4 linked regions of the Homo sapiens genome follow. The protein of the gene in region 1 interacts with the protein of each later gene in a pairwise test. Each region holds a gene or a part of one and is shown on either strand. Other genes may lie near its edges.

Evidence for each region.
Region 2: the proteins of NMNAT1 (region 1) and NFATC2IP interact in binary tests that used the Homo sapiens proteins (3 or more experiments, as listed by UniProt).
Region 3: the proteins of NMNAT1 (region 1) and KPNA5 interact in binary tests that used the Homo sapiens proteins (3 or more experiments, as listed by UniProt).
Region 4: the proteins of NMNAT1 (region 1) and KPNA3 interact in binary tests that used the Homo sapiens proteins (3 or more experiments, as listed by UniProt).

The regions. Positions count from the first base shown.
Region 1 is NC_000001.11:9,981,442-9,985,998, forward strand, and holds the end of NMNAT1 (nicotinamide/nicotinic acid mononucleotide adenylyltransferase 1), read left to right. Parts: exon of another isoform or gene 1-325; intron 326-859; coding exon 860-1,260; 3' UTR 1,261-3,694; coding exon of another isoform or gene 3,695-3,702; 3' UTR 3,703-4,057; downstream 4,058-4,557.
Region 2 is NC_000016.10:28,946,427-28,953,964, reverse strand, and holds the start of NFATC2IP (NFATC2-interacting protein), read right to left. Parts: upstream 3,029-7,538; 5' UTR 2,954-3,028; coding exon 2,567-2,953; intron 1,834-2,566; coding exon 1,761-1,833; intron 1,064-1,760; exon of another isoform or gene 1-1,063. UniProt on the Homo sapiens protein: In T-helper 2 (Th2) cells, regulates the magnitude of NFAT-driven transcription of a specific subset of cytokine genes, including IL3, IL4, IL5 and IL13, but not IL2.
Region 3 is NC_000006.12:116,684,197-116,691,229, reverse strand, and holds part of KPNA5 (importin subunit alpha-6), read right to left. Parts: intron 1,911-7,033; coding exon 1,777-1,910; intron 1-1,776. UniProt on the Homo sapiens protein: Functions in nuclear protein import as an adapter protein for nuclear receptor KPNB1. Binds specifically and directly to substrates containing either a simple or bipartite NLS motif.
Region 4 is NC_000013.11:49,698,807-49,705,702, forward strand, and holds the end of KPNA3 (importin subunit alpha-4), read right to left. Parts: coding exon 6,815-6,896; intron 3,675-6,814; coding exon 3,580-3,674; intron 3,093-3,579; coding exon 2,994-3,092; 3' UTR 514-2,993; downstream 1-513. UniProt on the Homo sapiens protein: Functions in nuclear protein import as an adapter protein for nuclear receptor KPNB1. Binds specifically and directly to substrates containing either a simple or bipartite NLS motif.

The sequences.
Region 1 (4,557 bases):
AGCCAGGATGGTCTTGATCTCCTGACCTCATGATCCGCCCACCTCGGCCTCCCAAAGTGCTGGGATTACAGGCGTGAGCCACAGCGCCTGGGCCTTATTTTTTTTGTTTTATAGAGATGGGGTCTCACTATTTTGGCCAGGTTGGTCTTGAACTCCTGGCCCCAAGCAGTCCTCCTGCCTTGGCCTCCCAAAGTGTTAGGATTACAGGTGTCAGCCACTATGCCTGGCCTTTATTTTCATTTTATATTGCATACTTGTGGGTGTCTGGAAAATGCCCCTTGTTAGTTGCATGAAGTGAAGGAGAATAAAAGGCACTTGGAGCTTATTTCTCCTGCAGTGGTCTCTAATCTTTGAGGTGTCCTGGGTCTCTTTTGGGAATCTGATTCTCATAAAATAAAAGCTCATAAAAACTGTGAACTGTCATTCTTTTTTTTTTTTTGAGACAGAGTTTTGCTCTTGTTGCCCAGGCTGGAGTGCGATGGCACAATCTCGGCTTACTGCAACCTCTGCCTCCCGAGTTCAAGTGATTCTCCTGCCTCAGCCTCTCAAGTATCTGGGGTTACAGGCGTGCGCCACCACACCCGGCTAATTTTGTATTTTTAGTAGAAACGGTATTTCACCATGTTGGTCAGGCTGGTCTCAAACTCCTGACCTCAAGTGATCTACCCGCCTCGGCCTCCCAGAGTGCTGGGATTACAGGCTAGAGCCACCGCACTCGGCCTAAGCCCTCATCCTTGAAAAGCACATACGTATCTTCATTTTGATACAGTGGGTTATTAGAAAAGTAAACCCCTTTCCACTTGGAGGAGGTAGAGGGGAAGAAAAAGCATACCCCAAAGCTCTGTTTTATTCTTCCCAGCTGTGCCAAAGGTCAAGCTGCTGTGTGGGGCAGATTTATTGGAGTCCTTTGCTGTTCCCAATTTGTGGAAGAGTGAAGACATCACCCAAATCGTGGCCAACTATGGGCTCATATGTGTTACTCGGGCTGGAAATGATGCTCAGAAGTTTATCTATGAATCGGATGTGCTGTGGAAACACCGGAGCAACATTCACGTGGTGAATGAATGGATCGCTAATGACATCTCATCCACAAAAATCCGGAGAGCCCTCAGAAGGGGCCAGAGCATTCGCTACTTGGTACCAGATCTTGTCCAAGAATACATTGAAAAGCATAATTTGTACAGCTCTGAGAGTGAAGACAGGAATGCTGGGGTCATCCTGGCCCCTTTGCAGAGAAACACTGCAGAAGCTAAGACATAGGAATTCTACAGCATGATATTTCAGACTTCCCATTTGGGGATCTGAAACAATCTGGGAGTTAATAACTGGGGAAAGAAGTTGTGATCTGTTGCCTAAACTAAAGCTTAAAAGTTTAGTAAAAATCGTCTGGGCACAGTGGCTCACGCCTGTAATCCCAGCACTTTGGGAGGCTGAGGCAGGTGGATCACGGGGTCAAGAGATCGAGACCATCCTGGCCAATATGGTGAAACCCCATCTCTACTAAAAATACAAAAATTAGCTGTGTGTGGTGGCACGTGCCTGTAGTCCCAGCTACTTGGGAGGCTGAGGCAGGAGAATCACTTGACCCCAGGTGGTGGAGGTTGCAGTGAGCCAAGATTGCACCATTGCACTCCAGCCTGGCGACAGAGCAAGACTCTGTCTCAAAAAAAAAAAAAAATTTAGTAAAAATCAATGGTAAGCTAAAATAAGTTTTTGTTTGTTTATTTGTTTTTGAGATGGAGTCTCTACTAAAAATACAAAAAATTAGCCAGGCATGGTGCCGCATAACTATAATCCCAGCTACTTGGGAGGCTGAGGCAGGAGAATCGCTTGAACCCGGGAGGCACAGGTTCCAGTGAGCCAAGGTTGTGCCACTGCACTCCAGCCTGGGCAAAAAAGCAAAACTCCATCTCAAAGAGAAAAAAAAAAAAGACCGGGTGTGGTGGCTCACACCTGTAATCCCAGCACTTTGGGAGGCCTAAGTGGGTGGATCACGTGAGGTCAAGAGTTCAAGACCAGCCTGGCCAATATGGTGAAACCCCATCTCTACTAAGAATACAAAAAATTAGCTGAGCATGGTGGTGGGCTCCTGTAGTCCCAGCTACTTGGGAGGCTGAGGCAGGAGAATCGCTTGAACCTGGGAGGCAGAGGTTGCAGTAAGCCAAGATCGTGCCATTGCACTCCAGCCTGGGTGACAGAGCGAGACTCCATCTCAAAAAAAAAAAAAAGCCTGACAGCTAGCAGGTTTCAGGATCCATCTGCCAAGTTAGTGAAAGGCTGGAGCCTCAAATCATACAGATGAGGGTCATTTTCTCCTCCTTAGCTTCTTGGAGTTTAAGAGTTGAAGGAGTCCTGAAAAGTAATGATAGAGCAAGATGAAGCTATCAGAACTGAATTTGGACTTCCTCTGGGAAACTACACCTAGTTCATCTGAAGTGTCACGTAAACTGCAGAAAGTTTCCAATGCTGGAAACTTCTCTCATACTATCGTGCCTTCCTACTCAGAAGTGCCTGTGCCCTGCTCAGCTGTGACTACTGACCTCAGGACCTCACTGGACAAGGCATGTGGGGACCCTTGCAGGAGCCCTGGTAAGGGTACAATGATCCTATTGTTTTTTGTTTTTGAGATGGAGTCTCACTCTGTCTCCCAGGCTGGAGTGCAGTGGTGCGATCTCCGCTCACTGCAACCTCCGCCTCCCGGGTTCAAGCAATTCTCCTGCCTCAGCCTGCTGAGTAGCTGGGATTACAGGCACCCACTACCATGTCCGGCTAATTTTGTATTTTTAGTAGAGATGGGGTTTCGCCATGTTAGACAGGCTGGTCTTGAACTCCTGACCTCAGGTGATCTGCCCACCTCGGCCTTCCAAAGTGCTGGGATTACAGGCATGAGCCACTGCACCCAGCCTGATCCTATTGTTGCACTATTTATGGAGCAACAACTTTGTACAAAGAACAAGCTTTGTACAGAGAACAAGCTTGGCTTTTTCTCCCAACGCCGAGGATGCTGTTGATGCTGCCACGTAATAGCATAATTTTGGGTGTCCTCAAGGACAGAACTTCCACTTTGAATAATGGAAGTTAGAACAATGAATTTCACAGGGGAATAAATATTAATGACTGACGTGAAGAAAATATGCCATTGTTTATTCCCTCCTGCATCATTTCCATAATTTGCTTTTGTACTGTCAATTTAGAGGAAATGTGTGATGCTGGTGTTTTGTTTGGCCTGTTTGTTTGATGCTGGGGGTTTTATGTGTTGTACCCTTTACCCCTTACATTGTGTAATTTGAAAGTGGCAAACAAACCTGCAGTAAAAGTCCTTGATTGGCATCTTCATTCGGATGATGGAGAGCCTTTGTGGTAGTGTTTGCTTATGTGAACAGCAGGCCTTTCAGATAAGAGAAGTGGCTTTTCCTTGGTGATGAAGGGGTAGAGATTGAGCCATGGGGATGGTTTAGGTTAAAGAATGCTTTTTTTTGGCCATCATGAGGATCTAACAACAGAGTAGAAGGAAGGATGCCCTAGGTCAGCATGCAGGGTGGTGGGAGGGCTTTCATCTTCCTTACCCAAGCCTCTCTTTTCACTTTTCTAGAAGTCCAGAAGTTGTTATATGATGAAATAGCCTCCTTTAACGTTTATTTCTGGGTGCCAACGGAGGCCCATTCCTCTAACATTCTCATAATTTTTCTCAAAGGCCTATGATCTAAACATTTCACCACGGCATCCACTCAGCTGTGAGGCTGCGTACACAGTCTCCACCTCTGAAATCTGAACTTCGTTTACCAGTGGTGCTGTTTGAACTTCATAATGTCAGCACTTCCTGAACACTTACTGTGTGCTTGGCTTGTGCTCCTGAGTGCCTTATATCATAAGGAAACGGCAAAATCAGGGGACTGGTATAAATGGTGAGCTGAGCTTGAATCTAAGCTTTGTCTTCAGAGCCAGTACCCCTAATCTCTCTTTCTGTAAAATATTACTTTTCAAAGAATGAAGTTGTAGCCAAATCTTGAAATTTTTCATTTACCCTAAGTGAGGACAAATAAAGCTTTCAACAACAGTTTGTGGTAGTCTGATGGAGATGAGTCCGACGTATTCAGTCCTCACGGAAGGACTAGGCTGAACTTGCCCAGTGTTAGCAATTCCTTGGAACTAGAACAGTGGAATCCGAGGGAGAAGGTGATATGGGCCATAATTAACTTTTGTGTTTGTGTGTGTGTGTATGTGTGTGTGTGTTTGCTTCTGAGACAGTTTTGCTGTGTCACCCAGGCTGGAGTGCAGTGGCACAGTCTCGGCTCACTGCAACCTCTGCCTCCTGGGTTCAAGCAATTCTCCTGCTTCAGCCTCCCAAGGAGCTGGGATTACAGGCGTGTGTTACCACGCCTGGCTAATTTTTGTATATTCAGTAGAGACAGGGTTTCACCGTGATGGCAAAGCTGGCCTCAAATGATCCGCCCACCTTGGCCTCCCAAAGTGCTGGAATTACAGGTGTGAGCCATCACGCTCTGCCCAGATAGGGTTTTTGACCTGTCATAGTGGTGCCTGGTCCCATTATTCTCT
Region 2 (7,538 bases), on another chromosome or scaffold:
TGCAAGAGGCCTATGATTCTGCATTTCGTTTTTCTTTTTTTTTTTTTGAGACCAGGTCCTACTGTGTCACCCAGGTTGGAGTGCAGTGGCATGATCATGGCTCACTGCAGCCTCGACTTCCTGGGCTCAGGTGTTTCTCCCACCTCAGCCTCCTGAGTAGCTAGGACTACAAGTACACATCACCATGCCTGGTTAATTTTTTATTTTTCTGTAGAAACAGGGTCTCATCATGTTGCGCAGGCTGGTCTCGAACTCCTGGGCTCAAGCAATCCTCCCATCTCAGCCTCCCAAAGTGCTGGGATTACAGCACTTTGAGCCATTGTGCCCAGCCGATCCTGCATTTCTAGCAAGCTTCCAACGGATGCCATATATGGCTGGGCCCACGTTTTGAGTATCAGGGATAGAGGTACCTTTTACGTAGCACTTCTGTGTCCTAGGTACTGTCCTAAAGCATATATCTAGCCAAGAGGCAGCTCTCTCTATATTCCCTTTCGTTAATTCTCACCAAAATCAGCACCAAAATGGGGTCTACTATTATCCCCACTTTGATAATGAGGAAATTGAAGCACTGAGAAATTAAGAAACTTGCCCAGGCTGGGCGTGGTGGCTCACGCCTGTAATCCCAGCACTTTGGGTGACCAAGGCAGACAGATCACCTAAGGTCAGGAGTTCGAGATCAGCCTGGCCAACATGATGAAACCCCATCTCTACTAAAAATACAAAAAAGCCAGACATGGTGGCGGGCGCCTGTAATCCCTGCTACTCGGGAGGCTGAGGCAGGAGAATGGCTTCAACCTGGGAGATGGAGGTTGCAGTGAGCTAAGATTGCGCCACTACACTCCACCCTGGGTGACAGAGTGAGACTCTGTCTCAAAACAAGAAAAAAGAAACTCGCCTAAGATCACACAGCTATTAAGAGATAGAGCTGAGGCCGGGCACAGTGGCTCACGCCTGTAATCCCAGCAATTTGGGAAGCTAAGATGGGCGGATCACCTGAGGTCAGGAGTTCAAGACCAGCCAGGCCAACATGGTGAAACCCCATCTCTATTAAAAATACAAAAAATTAGCCAGGCGTGGTGGGAATTAGTCAGCTACTGGGAAGGCTGAGGCAGGAGAATCGCTTGAACCCAGGAGGTGGAGGTTGCAGCGAGCCGAGATCGTGCCATTGCACTCCAGCTTGGGCAACAAAAGCGAAACTCTGTCTAAAAAAAAAAAAAAAAAAGAGAGAACTGAGATTCAAACCCAGGCCAGATGGCTCCTGTTTGCTTTTAATCACCCCACTGTACTCCCTCATGGTACAAGAGTCTTGGTCCAAGGTCTCCATTTGCCCACTGGATTATTTCCTTATTAGACTAGATTCCTATTCCCCGCCCTTGAGTTGTTTGCAAAAAATGCATCAGTGGGGGAGGACAAAGACAGGGCATCCCTGATAAGATTCAGAGAACACCCTGCTGGCTCCAGTGTTCCCAAAGAACTTGCTGCAGATGTAACAAGATGTCACAGATTCTCAACACCTTACCGCCTCCTGCCCCGCCCAGGACTACAGAATCAGCATCTCTTCAGGTGGCACCAGAAATGTATACATTAATACATTCTATGCTTGTTAACAATCCAGCTCCTGTGGCTGGGATGCAGGAGTCCCCTCTCCCACGCTCTTCCCTTGAGCCTCAGGAGACAACTGACTGCAGGAATATAAACCCCAGGAATTCTCTTAAGAGAAGCCAGCGGCTGCGTGCCTCTCCCTGGAGGCCCTCCCTTACCTTCCTCATCCCCTGGAGGGTAGAGTTTCAGGAGGGATAGATCATCTGGGATAAGGCGAAGGCTGCTTTTAACCTGCAAAGACAAAGAAGGGAGAGGGGTCAGGCCCAAGTCCTTCCCCTACCGAAAGAAAAAATTGGGGGTAATTCTTCCCTGACACCCAGCTCCCAAATCCTCCCTAAGATCGTGGACACCTTGGCCCTCTCCTGGCAACCTAGAAGTCCAGCTTCCCCAGGATTCAGAATGGAAGTACCCTTCACCCTTTCCTCCATCTGCCTAAGACACTCTGAAATGTATGCTTCCTTGCCCTTTTTAACTAGGTTACTAGCCGCCCCTCTACCCCTGACTCTTAGGGACTCTCAGCCCATTGCTCACACGACCATCGGGGGACCCCAGCCTCTGGAGCCGCCCAGTCCTCTCTGAACCCGCATGGACCCCAACCCCCAATACTGCAGCTCCCTGGCTTCATTTGCCATGGACCCCAACCTCAAAATCCAACGGCCCCAGGTCCTCCCAGTCCCTCTCCAAAATCTCAGGAATCCCAGCTCTTCAGCCTCCCTGTGCCCCCAAGACTCTAGCTCCTAGGAATCCTAAACTTCCAACGCATCCCACCCTCCTTCACCACCCCAGTCTGCAGAAAGTCCCGGAGCCCTGCCTCTCCCTGCCTCCAACACCCTAACGCCCGAGGACCAGCCCCAGAACGCCAGCCTCAACACCCCTATAGCCCTACCCTCCCCGAACGCCGGCCCCTCCCTGGAGGCCAAGCCCTTGGCCCTTCCGCCGGTCCCCTCCCCGGGACCGGGCGCACCTTCCCCGAGTACACCGGAACCAGCGGCGCCTCCCCCGGATCCAGCACCAGCCGCCGCCGCCGCCTGACCGGCTCCCGCGGGGGTCCTGCGGGCCGCCTGTCCTCCCCTTCGCTGTCACTGTTGCTGTTATCCCGGGACGCGACCGGCCCCGGGGGCTCCGGGGGCTCCACCTCAACCTCGTCCGCGGCACCGCGAGCGGTGGCGACCTCCAGAATTTCCTCATCGCTGTCGGTGACCAAGTCCACAGACACTACGTCCAGCGTGCCCCGGGATGGAGACCGCTGGGCCCGAGGACGCCGGCCCCGACCGCCCCAGCCGCCCCGACCCCCTCGGCCGGCACCGCTACCTCCGGACCAGCGGCCCCGCTTCCCCACAGGCTCCGCCATGGCACACTTTCCTCCACAACACACGCCCGCCTCCTCTCGCCTCGCCCCGCCCCCTTCAGCGACTTTCGCCTTGCATTGGACAAACAGCCTGCTCGTCAGCAACTCTTCGCGCCCCACGCGCGGGATCCGCCTTCCCGCCTTTTCATTGGTCTCTGTACCCGCTCATCATGCGCCCACCTCTGAAACCAAGGCGCCAAAGATTCCAATCACCTCGGCACAATCACCGTAGCTTTCGATTCAGTCGGCCTCACCCATTGGCTGGGCCACCTCTCCACAGACGAGCCTCTCCCGGACCCGCCCAACCAAGACAACCGTCTTCCGGCTTGGTTAGTCGCAGGGCATCCTGGGAAATGTAGTCCTCGAGCGGTAAGGTTTCCGGGAGAAGGAAGGCGGGCCTGGAATTCCCTGTGGAAACCGCGGATTTAACCAGGCGCGGTGCCTCACGCCCGTAATCCTGGCACTTTGAAAGGCTGAGGCGGGCAGATTGGTTGAGCTCAGGAGTTTGAGACCAGCCTGGCCAATGTGGCGAAACCGCGTCTCTACTAAGAATGCAAAAATTACCCGGGCGTGGTGGCACCCCTCTGTGGTCCCAACTACTCAGGAGGCTGAGGTGGGAGTTTCGCTGGAGCCCGGGAGGCGGAGATCGCACCACTGCACCCCAGCCTGGGTGACAGGGCGAGACCCTGTCTCAAAAATGCTTTAAAGAAATAATAAGGCTGGCCGCGCGCGGTGGCTCACGCCTGTAATCCCAGCACTTTGGGAGGCCGAGGCAGGCGAATCACGAGGTCAGAAGTTCAAGACCAGCCTGGCCAACACGGTGAAACCCCGTCTCTACTAAAAATACAAAAATTAGGCGGGCGTGGTGGCGTGCGCCTGTAATCCCAGCTACTCAGGAGGCTGAGGCAGGAGAATTGCTTGAGCCCGGGAGGCAGAGGTTACAGTGAGCCAGATCCTGCCGCTGCACTCCAGCCTGGCCGACAGAGCGAGACTCTCTCTCAAAAAAAGAAAGAAAGATAGAAATAATAAGGCTGGGCGTGGTGGCTCACGCCTATAATCCAGCACTTTGGGAGGCCGAGGTGGGCAGATCACCTGAGGTCAGGAGTTCGAGACCAGCCTGACCAACATGGTAAAACCCTGTCTCTACTAAAATACAAAAATTAGACAGGCGTAGTGGCAGGCGCCTATAATCTCAGCTACTCGGGAGGCTGAGGCAGGAGAATCGCTGGAACCCAGGAGGCAGAGGTTGCACTGAGCCAAGATTGTACCACTGCACTCCAGCCTGGGCAACAGAGTGAGACTCCATCTCAAAAAAAAATCTTATGTATTTATTTATTTTTAAATTTTATTTTATTCATTTATTTAATTTTATTTATTTATTTATTTTGAGATGGAGTTTCGCTCTTATTGCCCAGGCTGGAGTGCAATGGCTCGATCTCGGTTCACTGCAACCTCTGCCTCCCAGATTCAAGCAATTCTCGTGCCTCAGTCTCCAAGTAGCTGGGATTGATTACAGGCGTGCACTACCATGCCCAGCTAATTTTGTATTTTTAGTGGAGATGGGGTCTCACCATGTTGGTCAGGCTGGTCTTGAACTCCTGACCTCAGGTGATCCACCCCCCTCCGCCCCCGCCTTGGCCTCCCAAAGTGCTGGGATTACAGGCGTGAGCCACTGCGCCCGACTATTTATTTTATTTTTTTCTTTTTCTTGATTCGGAGTTTTGCTCTGTTGCCCAGGCTGGAGTGCAATGGTGCGATCTCAGCTCATTGCAACCTCCACCTTCAGGGTTCAAAGGATTCTCTTGCCTCAGCTTCCCGAGTAGCTGGGATTACTGTTGCCTGCCACCTTGCCCAGCTAATTTTTGTATTTTTAGTAGAGACGGGGTTTCACCATGTTGCCCAGGCCGGTCTTGAACTCCTGACCTCAAGTGATCCACCTGGCTCGGCCTCCCAAAGTGCGGGGATTACAGGTGTGAGCCACAGCACCCAGCCTGGCATATGTAAATCTTCATGATGGCTACATAAGCCACTTGCCAGTCTCCAAATTCAGGAATTCAAGGACCTGGGAGCCCTGACGAAATGCCGTCGTCAAGGCAGTTAGCTCTCTTGTCTCCCATTTCCCCTAGGAGGGAAAAGCTTGGCTTCAGTCTTGCTCCAAGATGCAGGCTACCTCCTGTCCTAAAGATATGAAAAGTTTGTGTCTACTCACCCCTACCATACAAGCCAATTCAATAACACAGGTGGTCACCCCACTTACCATCATAAAGTTAGACTGGGGCCAGGCGTGGTGGCTCACGCCTGTAATCCCAGCACTTTGGGAGGCCGAGGCGGGTGGATCACTTGAGGTCAGGAGTTCGAGACCAGCCTGGCCAACATGGTGAAACCCCATCTCTACTAAAATACAAAACAAAATTAGCTGGGCATGGTGGTGTGCGCCTGTATTCCTAGCTACTTGGGAGGCTGAGGCAGGAGGATCAGTTGAACCCAGGAGGTGGAGGTTGCAGTGACCCGAGATCGAGCCATTGCCCTCCAGCCTGGGAGACAGAGCCAGACTCTGTTGCAAAAGAAAAAAAAAAAAGCCAGGCGCGATGGCCCATACCTGTAATCCCAGCACTTTGGGAGGCCAAGGCGGGCGGATGACAAGGTCCAGAGATTGAGACCATCCTGGCTAACACAGTGAAACCCTGTCTCTACTAAAAAATACAAAAAATTAGCTGGGCGTGGTGGCGGGCGCCTGTAGTCCCAGCTACTCGGGAGGCTGAGGCAGGAGCATGGCATGAACCCAGGAGGCGCAGGTTGCAGTGAGCCGAGATTGCACCACTGCACTCCAGCCTGGGCGACAGAGCGAGACTCCGTCTCAAAAAAAAAAAAAAAAAAAAAAGGCTGAACTATGTTTGACTAAAGGTGTTGTCACGTCCTCTTACGTGAGGACTAGTCATTGTTTATCTTGAAAACATGGTATTGCAACCACCCCTATAAACTTGAGAAGAAGGGAGAGGGAGAAATGAAAAGAAACCAAACTTGCGGTGCACTCAGCATTGATCTCAGGGCAGCTGCTCCCTGACCTGCTTCCCCAAAGCCATCTGGTGCCTGTTGCCCCACAGTCACACAGCCCCTGTCAGAAGATTATAGTTCCCCTTAACTGCTCTTGAATCACGGCTTGGACATTACATTAGGTGTTCCCTTTGAGATATTCCTTCAGGTCTTGATGGAACTACTGATTCAGCTGACCTGAAGGACCCCACAAGGAGCTGACTCCCCGCAAAATGCAGCTTCTACACCCTGACAATTTCATCCCCCTTCCCAACCAATCAATGACCCCAATATTCCAGCCCATCACTCCCCACAAACCCCTTAAAAGCCCAGCCCAGAACTCCCTGGAGAGAGATTTGAGGGTCTCCTCCCATCACCTCGCTCGGCACCCTGCAATCATTAAACTCTCTCTGCTGCATCCCCACCGTCTCAGAGTCACAGAGCTGTGACTGCACAGTGGGCATATGAACCTGCAGCTCCTGTAACAATATGGAATTTGAAATTTTATCTTGAAAACAGGATAATGGTTTACACCTGCTTGGCTGTAATGAAGGATATTTCTTTTTGCCTTTGCAATCTTTTACCAGATTGCCAGTGATGTGCATCACATTCTAACTTAATGCTTATTCAAGCCGGGTGCAGTGGCTCACGCCTCTAATCCCAGTACTTTGGGAGGCTGAGGTGGTTGGATCACCTGAGGTCAGGAGTTCGAGACCAGCCTGGCCAATATGGTGGTGTATTTTTCTACTAAAAATACAAAAAATTAGCCAGGCATTGTGGTGGGCACCTGTAATCCCAACTACTCCGGAGCCTGAGGCAGGAGGATCACTTGAACCCGGGAGGCAGAGGTTCCAGTGAGCTGAGATTGTGCCATTGCACTCCAGCATGGGCAACAAGAGTGAAACTCCATGTCAAAAAAGAAAGAAAAATTATGCTTATTCAATAATAAAACCAGCCCGGGCATGTTGGCTTATGCCTGTAATCCCAGCACTGGGAGCCTGAGGTGGGAGGATCACTTGAGGTCTAGGGTTCAAGGCCAGCCTGGGCAATATAGCAAGACCCTGTCTCTACAAAAAGTAATAATAATTAGTGGGTGTCGTGATGCACACCTGTAGTCCTAGCTACTTGGGAGGCTGATTGAGCCCAGGAGTTCAAGGCTGCAGTGAGCTATGATCTCACCACTTCACTCGAGCCTGGGCAACAGAGCAAGACCCTCTCTCTAAAAATAAATAAATACATACAATTTAAGGCCAGGCACAGTGGTTCACGTCTGTAATCCCAGCACTTTGGGAGGCCAAGGTGGGAGGATCACTTCAGGCTGAGCGTTAAGACCCGCCTAGGCAATATAGTAAAACCCCCAACTCTACGAAAAATAATAATACATTTTAAAACTTTTTTTTTTTTGAGATGGAGTTCCACTCTTGTTGCCCAGGCTGGAGTGCAGTGGCACAATCTTGGATCACTGCAACCTCCACCTCCCGGGTTCAAGCGATTCTCCTGCCTCAGCCTCCTGAGTAGCTGGGATTACAGACATGCGCCACCACGCCTGGCTAAT
Region 3 (7,033 bases), on another chromosome or scaffold:
TTGAGACGGAGTCTCGCTCTGTCTCCAGGACAGAGTGCAGTGGCACAATCTCGGCTCACTGCAACCTCCACCTCCTGGGTTCAAGCGATCCTCCTGCCTAAACCTCCTGAGTAGCTGGGATTATAGGCGTGCGCCACCATGCTCGGCTAATTTTTTTATTTTTAGTAGAGACGGGGTTTCACCATGTTGGTCAGGCTGGTCTCAAACTCCTGACCTCAGGTGACCCGCCCACCTAGGCCTCCCAAAGTGCTGGGATTATAGGCATAAGCCACTGAGCCCGACAATAATACATATTTTAAAACAACACAGTATAACAACTCAACTACACAGCATTTACACTGTATTAGATATTATAAGTAATCTGGAGATGACTCAAAATATACAAGAGGATGTGTGCAGGTAATATGCAAATACCATGCCATTTTACATAAAGGACCTGAGCATCAGTGAATTTTGATATCTGCAGAGGATCCTGGAACCAAGGGATAACTCTACATTTCCTAAATCAAAATTTGAGGAAAACAAAATCTGCTTATATTCTTTTTGACATCTAAATAAATATCGTTCTTCTTTTTTTTTTTTTTTTTGAGATGGAGTCTTACTCTGTCGCCCAGGCTGGAGTGCAGTGGCATCAACTCGGCTCACTGCAAACTCTGCCTCCCGAATTCACGCCATTCTCCTGCCTCAGCCTCCTGAGTAGCTGGGACAACAGGCGCCAGCCACCACGCATGTCTAATTTTTTTGAGATGGGGTTTCACCTTGTTAGCCAGGATGGTCTCAATCTCCTGACCTCGTGATCCGCCCGCCTCAGCCTCCCAAAGTGCTGGGATTAAAGGGGTGAGCCAGGGCTCCCAGCCTGTTCTTCTTTAATATGTAAACAATCTTCCTTCTAATCATTTATTCAACACAATTTTTTTAGTACCTACTATAATGTATGAAGGATTGTGTTAGACGCTGTAGATAGGGAGATGAGAAATCATTATCATATTTCTGAAATAGGCCTTGCCTATTACATGCCTGTAATCCTAGCACTTTGAGAGACAGAGGCAGGAATATTGCTTGAGGCGAGGAGTTCAATACCAGCCTGGGCAACATAGCAGGACCCCATCTCTACTTACAGAATACAATAGAATAGAATACAATAGAAGAGAATAGGCCTTTTCTACTTTCTTCACTGCTAGTCCTTTTCATACATCAGTTTTAATTCACATGTGTGAGAACCACATTATTTTACTTACTTACAAATACTTCTACATTTAAGTACATCTTGGAATAAAAAATGTTGAGATGTACTCTCTTAAACAATTTTATATTCTTTATGTCACATATGAAAAGTATAAACAGAGATCCAGCTAATAAGACAATGGGGGAACAGTATGAATAGCATGGGAAGATGACAATAATTTACTTACGGGCAAGAATTATGAAAACTACAAAGCAGCAAATAATATATAATTAATGTTTCTTTAAGGGGCAAATTTTACAATGACAAATGGAAGTGATCTAAATAGATGCAAGAGGAAAAATTTCCTAGCAGTAGGGTAAAAATATAATTAACACAACAGGTTTATCAATAAAACAGAAAATCCATTTCTCCCAGTGACTAAAGTAGCACAGAGTTCTGTTTCACAAATTTGCAATTATGATGCCTGGAGTCTAATAAATAATAGATTTAGCTATATTCAATTTCTTAAAACATTTCCATTTAAAATTATCCAATAATTAGCAAATAATTAAAATTTTAAAAAACAAAATTAAATAGCTAAAAACACCTACCTGTTCTTCTCTTTTTTGTTTTCTAAGCTGTATTCCTTCTTCTTCTCTTCGTCTACGCATCTCTTGAGGATTTAGGGCTTTATTCTTATAACTTTTCATTCTATAGTTATCTTTCCCTGGACTAGCCATGGCATCTTAAAGGAAGGAGAAAAGAAAACAGACACTGATAACTCACTCTCTCAAAACAACATGAGACACTTAATCTAGCAACTAAATTCAGGCTCACTGATTAACAGGTCAACAAAACCCATTCTGAAAATTATGTACAAAGAATACATTCCCTTAATTCCACATCAAGATTAGAGCAAAATGACCACATATTTTAGAAATAATATCTTAAACAAATAATTTTGGTCTAAACAAAGACAAAGTTTACCCTATCTTATTGATTCTAAGATGCAACAACCTTTCCTGTCTCCCTAGCCCCCACAGTGTTTTAACCTTTCTGAAACATAATTACTGTCAGGAAATAATCATGAATTATTTGGGTTAAAAAAAAAGTCTTCTAAATTACAGTTTCTGGCTAGATCAAGAAATAACCAGCTTTGAAGTATCTTATTTTTAATGAAATATGATATTAGGCTCCAGTAAGCACATCTCAAATATTTATTGGGGTCTGGCTTCTTTCACTTACTGAAGGCATTGCCTTAAGAGCTATGGCCACAAGGGTCAGGACTTGAATTATGACTACAATATCAGTTTTTAGTACTCCAGTATAATTAGTTCTTTTGAAATACTAAAATACATGTATACTTTATTTTTAAGTAGTTTTATTGCAAATGTATTTTAAAACATTAACATTTATATACCTATTTTATAAATACATAAAATATATGCAAATATATTTCATATTTGAATATATGTGCTAGTTTTACTTTTAGAAAGTGAATTATAAACTTTAACAATGTAACAGTATTGATATCTTGATATTATCTTATAGGAATATTAAAATACTGATATTATAACCTATTCTGGACTTACACATCACACACACACAAAATCTGCCTAAAGCAGGGTGCCAACTTCAGTTTAACAGTAGATAGTGAGTACCCAGTATGTTATTCTGTTAAATTCAGAGGACATATCCATGTCCAACCAGAGACAATGTTGTGACCAATTAGCTTATGAAGTAAACACAAGAGAAGGAGAGGCTGGCATCTGTCTGCCATCCCTGATATTGAAGAGACAGACTAATGAATTGGCAAATTTTATTGTAAGGAGTACACTAAAATACATGCTTTAAATCTTGAGAGAGCAGTGAAGATATGGCAACTAATTGTGCCTTAGGGACTTCTGAAAGCTTCATGGGTATCCTATTTTAAAGGAAAAACAGGAAAGAGAAATGGGGAGAATCAAGCATTTCAAGCAGAAGGAATATATGCAAAGGCAAAGTTTTTGAAGAAGCCTTGCATAACCAAGAACAGTAAGAGACTAAGTGTGTCCAAAATGAGGATGCATGGCAGAACATAAAGCTATAAAGGTAGGTTAGAGGACATATGGTTCCTATAATGCAGCTGTGAAATTTGGACTTGATCCTAAGGAATAGAATTAAACAAATTAAGGAAAAGGTTGTTTTTACATAGTTCAGAGAGAGAGATAGGAAAGATGCTGAAGGCGTGAACTAAACAAGTTACTACAATGAAAACATAGAAGACAAGTTGGATTCTAGAAATATTTCTGAAATTGATTCAGTAAAAATTAGAGGCCAAATGAATGTAACAGATATCTGGTGAGGAAGAAAAGGGAGTTGAGGATGACTCCATGGTTTTTAACTGAGCCATCTGAGTAGTATGGCAAGATAACATAAGACAGAGAATACGGATGGAGGATCAGAGTAGTGGTTGTTGTGTTTACATATCGGCTTGTTTCTGAGACAAGAATAATGAATTCCGTTATTTTAGGTTTATTTTTAAATTTATATTTAGTAAAAATCACTCTTTTCGTATACATTTCTATGAATTTAACAAATATACATGCATGTAACTATCACAATCAAGACACAGAACAGTTGTCACCCCCTAAAACTCCCTCAAGCTGCTCCTATTAGCCCTCCCTGACCCTTAACATCTGGTAAAAAGTTAATTCTCCATCCCTATAGTTCTGCCTTTTCCTGAATTTCAGAAAAGTGGATTCATACAGCATGTAGTCTTTTAAATCTGACTTCCCAGAAAAAGTATAAAATACCTCAAAATATAGCCAGCCAAGGAGGTGAAAGACCTCTAGAGTGAGAATTACAAAACGCTGCTAAAAGAAATCAGAGATGACACAAACGAATGGAAAAACATTCCATGCTTGTGGATAGGAAGAATCAATATCGTGAAAATGGACATACTGGCCAAAGCAATTTACAGATTCAACACTATTCCTATCAAATTGCCAATGACATTCTTCACAGAACTAGAAAAAACTATTTTCAAATTCATATGGAACCAAAAAAGAGACTGAATAGCCAAGGCAAACCTAAGCAAAAAGAACAAAGTTGGAGGCATCATATTACCTGACTTCAATCTGTACTACAGGGCTACAGTAACCAAAACAGCAGGGTACTGGTACAAAAACAGACACATAGACCAATGAAACAAAATAGCCCATAAATAAGGCCACACACCTACAACCATCTGATCTTTGACAAAACTGACAAAAGGAAGCAATTGGGAAAGGACTCCCTATTCAATAAATGGTGCTGGGATAACAGGCTAGCTACATGCAGAAGATTGAAACTGGACCCCTTCCATATACAAAATAACTCGAGATGGATTAAAGACTTAAATGTAAAACCCAAAACTATAAAAACTCTGGAAGACAACCTAGGCAATATCATTCTGGCCACAGGAATAGTCAGAGATTTCATCACGAAGGGGCTATTGCAACAAAAGCAAAAATTGACAAATGGGATCTAATTAAACTTAAGAGCTCCTGCACAGCAAAAGAATCTGTCAACAGAGTAAAAGACAACCTACAGAATGGGAGAAAATTGTTGCAAACTATGCATCTGATAAAGGTCTAATATCCAGCATCTATAAGAAACTTAAACAAATTTACAAGAAAAATACAAACAACCCCATTAAAAAGTGAGCAAAGGACATGAACAGACACTTTTCAAAGGACATACATGCAGCCAAGAAGCATATGAAAAAAAGGTTAACATCACTGATCATTAGAGAAATGCAAATCAAAACCAGAATAAAATACCATCTCACACCAGTCAGAATGGCTATTATTAAAAGGTCAAAATGAGCCAGGTATGGTGGCTCACACCTGTAATCCCAGCACTTCGGGAGGCAGAGGCGGGAGGCAGAGCCAGGAGGATTGCTTGAGCTCAGGAGTTCAAGACCAGCCTGGGCCACACAATGAGACCCTGTCTCAACAAAATATCAAAACATTACCCAGGCATGGTGGCACGTGACTATAGTCTCAGCTACTCAGAAGGCTGAGGTGGAAGAATCACTTAAGCCCAAAGGTCAAGGCTACATTGGCCATGACCACACCACTGCACTCCAGCCCGGGCAACAGTGAGACCATGTCTCAAAAAGGAAAAGAAAAAAAGTCAAAAAACAAATGTAAATTAGTTCAATCACTGTGGAAAGCAGTGTGGCAATTCCTCAAAGAGCTAAAAATAGAACTACCATTTGGCCCAGCAATTCCATTACTGGGTGTATATCCAGAGGGATATAAATCATTCTACCATAAAAACATGTGCACACAAATGTTCAGTGCAGCAGTTTTTACAATAGGAAAGACATGGAATCAACCTAAATGCCCATCAGTAACAGACTGGATAAAGAAAATGTGGTACATAAACACCATGAAATACTATGCAGCCACAAAAAAGAATGTGATCATGTCTTCTGTGGGAACATGAATGGAGCTAGAGGACATTATCCTTAGCAAACTAATGCAGGAAAAGAAAAACAAATACCACATGTTCTTACTTATAAGTGGGAGCTAAATGAGGAGAACACATGGACACAAAGAAGGGAACAACAGACACTGGGGGCCTACCGGAGGGTGGAGGGTAGGAGGAGGGAGAGATGCAGAAAAAATAACTATTGGGTACTAGGCTTAGTACCTGGGTGACAAAATAATCTGTACAACACCCATGACACGAGTTTACCTATACAACAAGCTTGCACATGTGCCCCTGAGCCTAAAGGTAAAATAAACAACAACAACAAAACCAACAAAATAAATCCGGCTTCTTTCATTTAGCACGGTATTTGAGTCGTCCACATTGTTGGCATCTATCAACTCTCCTTTCTTATTGCTGTTATTCCACTGTAGGGACAGATCACGGTTTATCAGTTTTCCAGTTAAAGAACATCTGGGTGGTTTCTAGTTTTTGGAGGTTATGAATAAATGTGCTACAGACATTTATGTAAAGGTGTTTGTGTAAACATAAGTTTTCATTTCACTCAGTAAATATCTAGGAGTAGAACTGACGGATAATACGGCAAGTTTATGTTTCACTTTATAAGAAACTGCCAAACTTCTTTCCAAAGTGAGTATTCCATCTTGCATTCCCATCAGTAATGTATGAGAGTTCCAGTTGCTTTGCATCCTGTCTCCATTTGATGATTTAAGGGGTTTTGTCGTTGCTGTTGCTAGTCATAGCCATTCTAATAAGTGTATAGTGACTCTGGTTTTAAACATGGTAAATGTGTAGTACTTGGTGCACATGTAGGAGGCTTTGATCTGTAGATGGTTGAAAATACGGATCAGAACTCAGGACAGGGATCTGGAGTGATCATTTGCTATCATGTAGAGCTACAGAAGAAGGATGACCAAAGGAGAAATCTTGGGGACCATCATATTTTAGCAGAAAAAGGCAAGAGCAAAAGAAACCAAAAAGAAGTAGGTCAGAGAAGTAGAAGAATAAGGAAGAAATTAAGAGTCCTGCAAAGGAAAGGAGTTCAAAAGATAAAGGAATATTTAAGTTGTAGTACCACTGAAAACAGGCCACTCGGTTTATTCATTCATTGATTCATCCAGAAAATAAAAGTGCCTGTAATAATCCAAGTACCATATCAGGCATCAGATTTGGTAATTATGTCACTGGTAAAGATAGTGAGACAAATCTCACTACTGGTGGAGCTCAAGGTAGAAGGGAAGGGGCTGAGGACTTGAGAATGATTGAAAAGAAATGCATGATTAATTTACCAAAATTCCTCCTTTAAAATATTTAATAGATTCAGCAATACTATGTGCACCTACAAATAGATATCATTAGAAACTGCTCAATATGGCCGGGCGGGGTAGC
Region 4 (6,896 bases), on another chromosome or scaffold:
CCCAAGTTTTTTGACAAAGCTTTGATTCCTTAATCAACTGCAAATAAGAAAATCTGTGAATTCACCTATGACCTATAAGTCACCCCCTGCCACCCTCGGCTTCAAGACAGCCCACCTTTCTAGGCCAAACCATTGTGTACTGATGTACAATTCTGCCTGTAATTTATGCTTTCCTGAAATTCACCCCTGCCTTTAAAAACCCTTGCTTGTAAAGCCATGAGGGAAGTTGGGTCTTAAGTGTGAGCTGCCTCATTTTTCTTGTTTGGTGCCCTGCCTGCAGATAAATGCCCTCCTTTTTCCTGCTGCAAAACCTTGCTATGAATGTTTGGCCTAACTGTGCCAGGTGAACAGACTCCAGTTTAGTTCAGTAATATGGTGTGAAGGAGATATTAAAATACAGTAAAAGAGTAATTCATGATTTACCTCCATTGTGATTTTTAAAAAAATAATTCCAAATTTAAATTTAACCATACAGAAAACAAACAAGTTATTTTCAGAAATAAGTTTTCAATGTTTTATCATATTTGATAGCAGCTTTTTTTATTGGTTACAAAACCTAAGCCCATATACAAAATTAGGAACACATTTAGATGCCTCTTTTGAAAGAACGTTTTAGTCTTTTTAAACTGAGTTTAAAAAAAAATAACAATGCAATTTTTAAACACTGTTTTGAAAACTTAAAAGTGCAGCAATATACTTAGTTTCCTTTATCTACGAAATGGTGCAATTCCAATTCAAAACTGGTAAGGTCACAAATTGAATCAAGGAAATGCATACAAGTGTCTGCACTACTTGATGCTAATGTTCACTTAAATGTTAGTTTGCACTTTAAAACATGAGAGGAAATAGGAATCATCACAGTAGAGGCCCAATTTTAATCATAATGTGTGCAAATTTTAAAAGGTAACTGTCAGTTAAGTAAGGAAAGTCCAGAAGAAACTAAACTGGAAGGGGTACGGTTCACAATATCAAGAAGATTTGGACTTTTAAGGGTTTCACCGAAGTTTGTGACCTTAATTAGCTTTTACGTTGTTATTCCTACTTTTAGCGAACACCACACAGTTTCAAAAATTTAGACTATAGTGTCCGAACAGGATGCAGTTACCATATGAAGCTTTAACTCAAAATTTGGATAAAGAAAAAAAGGCACAATGAACTTCAACTCAATTTTATGTGCACAAGAGTTGAAAAATCTGAGCCACCTTAAAGAGAAATTGATTCTAAAATTTATAAAACCTATAAATAATCAGAGGCCAAACCACTATATTAAAACAGATTCTCTAGCAAGTAAAAATCTTGCAGTTTAAACATACGCTTGTATCCACTTTAGATACAAGACAAAACTCACTCTTTAAAGTGGCTCCACCTTGGCAGATACATATATTTGTAATGAATGCACACCTGCTATGTGTTGTTTATCAGTGAAAACACCCCAGCTGATTCACAAAGCTCTGATGGCATCTGTCTCATCTTCATCACAGTAAATACACCCCCCAATGGATAACTAAATTAGTTTAGATTTTCTATCCCTTCACATCAATGCATTGGGAAATTATACCCAGTAAACAAGAGCAACAATACCATTTCTGTGACAGCACAAATTATTTAGTTTAAAAATTTTTAAATCCATATTCTTTCATTAATAACTGGGTCAGACAATTTACCAAAAGCAATAACTTGACATAGTAATACCGGATTTTGCAGAATTACTTAGAGATCACTGCAAATCAGGTTTATGTTAAATAACTGCAAATTACTCCTCTACACAGATCCCTGTCTGAATCTTTTAATATGTGAAGATGCTTTTTGAGTAGGATCTGAATTAACTTTCCCAATACTCAAAGAATGAACTCTTATGACACTTCTAAATAGTTGCTGGTTTGTTGCCAACCACATTATCAAAAGCACTGGTTACTAAGTAAAAAATATTTTAAGACTAAATTACAGTAAACATGAAAGCTCCACAGTTTAAACCCAATATAAATCAACCATATCCAATTATCAAATTAAAACAAAGAATATTAACTCCTGAAAGCTGAAAGCAAGATTTTTTTAAAAAACATCACCAATGGGTATTTTAGACTTTTGCAGTTTTTTTTTGTTTGCTTTTTGTTTTGCTGTTTTTCCTTTATACTCAGGGACTCTTGCTTTCAACTTAAACAGAAGTTCAAGTCCATAACAGGTTGCAGCTCAGGTAAAATACCATGCACAGCATTTGATTACTTCAAAACAGCAGGAACACACAGGCTGAAGAGAGTGGTCAAATAGGGCTTGCTGTTCTCAAAAATTAGGTATAATGGCAAAAGCATTAATATCCATATCTAAAGTTCTTCCTCCAACCCTGGCTTCTGAGGCAGATAATAAACACATCAATTACTGGTAGATGAAGTAGTTTTTTTTTTTTTTTAAACTTATCTGTTTATTCAATAACCAAGTTTCTTGTTTTTAAGTTACTTTTTTTGTGTCAGTTCCACCAATGAAAATCATTTGGCTTGTACTTTAAAATCTATTCTTCCACATAAAGAATATGAAAATATGTTTGTGGAGGACAATGATGGAGGCTCAGATCACACTGCACCTCTTTAGTCTTCCAACTTGTATATGCATCATACCAAAGTGTCTTGATCCACAGCGCACCATTTTCCAAAGGAGTATCAGTGGGCAGCTGACATGTCACCACTATGGAATATTTATTCTAAACTGGAGACTGCAGTTGTCAGCCTGTGGCACCAGGGAACAGGGAAAAATAGGGTAGTTGAGATTGTTAAGGAGAGTTCTAAAACAGTTTAGGAAATCATGCATATGCATTTACAGTCCATGTGATAGTGACTTTTGGCAACTGCAAAGTGACTGAGACATGGCTTGCTTTAGAAGCATCAAAACAAAGAGGCATGTGTGTTTTGGAGCCTTTTGTTGCTGTTGTTCTTATCATTTGGTAGCCATCTGGTGGTGCTTCATATTGAATGTGGGAAAGATGCTGCACTCAACTGAATTTAAAAATTAAATTCTTTTGTTTGAAGGTTGGCTGTTGGATCAAAATTGTAGGTACCTCCTTGTGTTGCTTCAGGAATGAGGCAGGGATCTTCATCAATCTGTAAAAAACAAGAAAAAAATCCTTATTAGGTTATGATACTATACATTATGATGTAAGTGGAATTGACTTTTTACCTCTTAGCAAATAATTCTATGTGAATGCTTTAACCAACTAAAAATATTCGAGTAAATCAATAATTTTATTAAGAAATTTAACAATTTAAAATTTAACACGTTTCGAAACTGCATTGTTAAGTTTCTGTATCTGGGACCTAGATTTATTTAACCTATCTGAACATATATCACTTATATAATTACTATTTCTTCCTAGTTAATAGATTAGAAATGAAACAAGAACTGTTTTTACAACTTTACCTTATAATGAAGTTTCAAAGTATTTAAGAGAAAGTGACTGATGGAATGTCTAATAGAAATACAGTACAAACTTATGTCATCCTAATAATAAAAGGAAAACTCTTAGTAAATTTACATCATGTATAGGTTTTCATTTACATGAAGATACACGCTATTTTAATATCTACTTACATCATCACCAGAGAAATACTGATCTATGATTTCAAATGCTAATTTATATATGTCTTCATTTTCATGTTGCTGTAAAACTTCAATTTTCTCCAAACCTGGTAAAAATAAAATAATCAAAATAACTGGTTAATTGATAAGGAGATACTAATCAAAACCACACTCATTTTAATCATGGAGAAATCCTAAGGAACTCAGAACACACTGCTCCCCCATCTAAGATAGTGGTTTGTCTAAAAAACAGACAAAACACGGGGCTGCTTCTAGTTGGAGGACCAGAATCCCACTAATTTTTTCCTTCTTAGAAGCCCTTGAGGTACCCGGATCCCTGAGGCAGACAGTCTAAAAAAACACCCAAACAATCCATTTGACAGAGGGAAGCTGTGGCATAAATATGTAAAGAGACTTATTTCAAGTTATATGGCAAGTTTGTGACAGTACTAGAACCAACTCCCCCACAGTGCTTTAATATAAATTTACTAATCTATTTTTTTTTTGAGACGGAGTCTCGCTCTGTCACCCAGGCTGGAGTGCAGAGTGCAGAGGTGTGATCTCGGCTCACTGCAAGCTCCGCCTCCTGGGTTCATGCCATTCTCCCGCCTAAGCCTCCCAAGTAGCTGGGACTACAGGCGCCCGCCACCACACCCGGCTAAGTTTTTCTATTTTTAGCAGAGACGGGGTTTCACTATGTTAGCCAGGATGATCTTGATCTCCTGACCTCGTGATCTGCCCACCTCGGCCTCCCAAAGTGCTGGGATTACAGGCGTGAGCCACTGCGCCTGGGCATTTTTTCTTTCTTTCTTTTTTTTTTTTTTTTTTGAGACGGAGTCTCACTCTGTAGCCAGGGCTGGAGTGCAGTGGCACGTCTCGGCTCACTGCAACCTCCACCTCCTGGGTTCAAGTGTCTCCTGCCTCAGCCTCCCAAGTAGCTGGGATTACAGGTGCCCACCACTATGCCCAGCTAATTTTTTGTGTTTTTAGTAGAGACGGGGTTTCACCATGTTGGCCAGGCTGGTCTCGAACTCCTGACCTCGTGATTCGCCCGCCTTGGCCTCCCAAAGTGCTGGGATTACAGGAGTGAGCCACTGCACCCGGCCAATCTTATTAATCTTACTGCCTCATAAAGTAATTTGTATCTTTCTCTTTGTTTTCCAAATGTTATTACCTTTATATAACCACAAAATGAGTTTTTAGAACCTTATAATTGGTATAAAAGATATAAAGATTTAAATTTTGAAAAACTTTCTTTAAAAAATGAATAGAGGTCTTATGTCCTATAGCCACAATGAACCTGGGAGAAAATATTTCCAGAACAGATATCATAGAATGCCTTCATTTATATTTCCAATATATTTACTCCACACATCATATACATGTTTATCAATTTCACACCTTAATATTCTTCCTTGAAATGTCTTTTTGAAGGTTATTTTAAAATAGTTGCAATTTTTTCTTATATACTAATAAACCAAAAGAATGGGGGAAATCGTTGCCAAAGTGCTTTATACAATTATAAAATATTAATATGTATCCTATTACTCCTATAGACAAAAGTAACTATATTGATAAAAAGCTGAAGAGTAGTAATTCTCTAAGTTGCTCAAACTTACTGTGTTATGAACCTGACTACAATTTTTAATTATCTTAATAGTAAGAAGATCTGGATTTTAACTTTGCTTCTATCACAACCTACTTCTGTCACCTTGGACAAGACTCCTTAAAATCTGTGGGATAATTTCTTCTCAAGAAACCCTCCCGGCTGGGTGCAGTGGCTCACGCCTGTAATCCCAGCACTTTGGGAAGCCGAGGCGGGCAGATCACCCGAGGTTGGGAGTTTAAGACCAGCCTGACCAACACGGAGAAACCCTGCCTCTACTAAAAATACAAAAATTTAGCCGGGCGTGGTGGTGCATGCCTATAATCCCAGCTACTAGGGAGGCTGAGGTAGGAGAATTGCTTAAACCCGGGAGACGGAGGTTGCGGTGAGCCATTACACTCCAGCCTGGGCAACAAGAGCGAAACTCTGTCTCAAAAAAAAAATAAATAAATAAAAAATAAATAAATAAATAAATAAATAAATAAATAAATAAATAAATAAATAGAAAGAAAGAAATCCTCCCAGTCTGAATATTCTACGGTACTACTGCATTTGTTTTCTCTTAAAATAAATAAATAAATAAACAATAGAATATTCATATAAAGTAGTCAATGAAATGTAAAATCTAAAACATGACATTATGATAAACTAATTTAAGGTTTAAACATGTTAGTACATATTGAACATGTACATTTAAAAACAGAATTTTAACATATGTTTCACATGTCATTAAAGAATAATACAGTATGTCAAATCACAATTATTTCTCATTAAAATTTCAAAGTAACTGCCACAGTAATAACTTCAGGATGTAGTTGTGGAAATCCTAAGAATCATTACAAGATTGAAACAAAATATCTAGGTGACTCAGAAGTCAGTAACCTTTTCCAACTATATGAAATAATATTTCCTAAAGTGGGGTCCACAGAATTACATGGTAATAACACACAAAAAAAGTGTTTCATTGTTAAGAAGTTTAAGAAATGCTGGATTAAATAAAGCTTTAAAATTTATGTAGTGTTGTAAGGGCTCTTAAATTTGCTGTCATGCACTGTGACTTCAAGAGAAGTATTAGTGTTTCCTAAAATGCAATGTCAGGCCAGGCGCAGTGGCTCATGCCTGTAATCCCAGCACTTTGGGACGCTGAGGCAGGTGGATCACTTGAGGTCAGGAGTTCGAGACCAGCCTGGCCAACATGGTGAAACCTCGTCTCTATTAAAAACACAAAAATCCACTGGGTGTGGTGGTGTGCGCCTGTAATCCCGGCTACCTGGGAGGCTGAGGTGTGAGAATTGCTTGAACTCGGGAGGCAGAGGTTGCAATGAGCTGAGATTGTGCCACTGCACTCCAGCCTGGGCGACAGAGCAAGATTCTGTCTCCAAAAAAAAAAAAAAAAGCTATGTTGTCAATCTCTAGAAGGCTATACAGTGACTTTCACAACCTGATTTTGCAAAGTATGGACTACTGTCTTCTGGAAAATCCTCTTGGAATGCAAATATAGTGAATAAAGAAAAGCAACATACTGTGATCATTTAAAAACAACGTATCCTAGTAATTTTCTGTCTAGTAAGTTGACTTTAAAGAACTTATGTTTCAGAGTTCCAGTGCTCAAATACTCTTCTTCCATCAATCCACTCTTACCTCCACATTCCTCTATTATTTCAGCTATTGTGCTTGCTTCATCACCGGCCATTATCAGAATGTTTTTTAGACCATCTAGAAC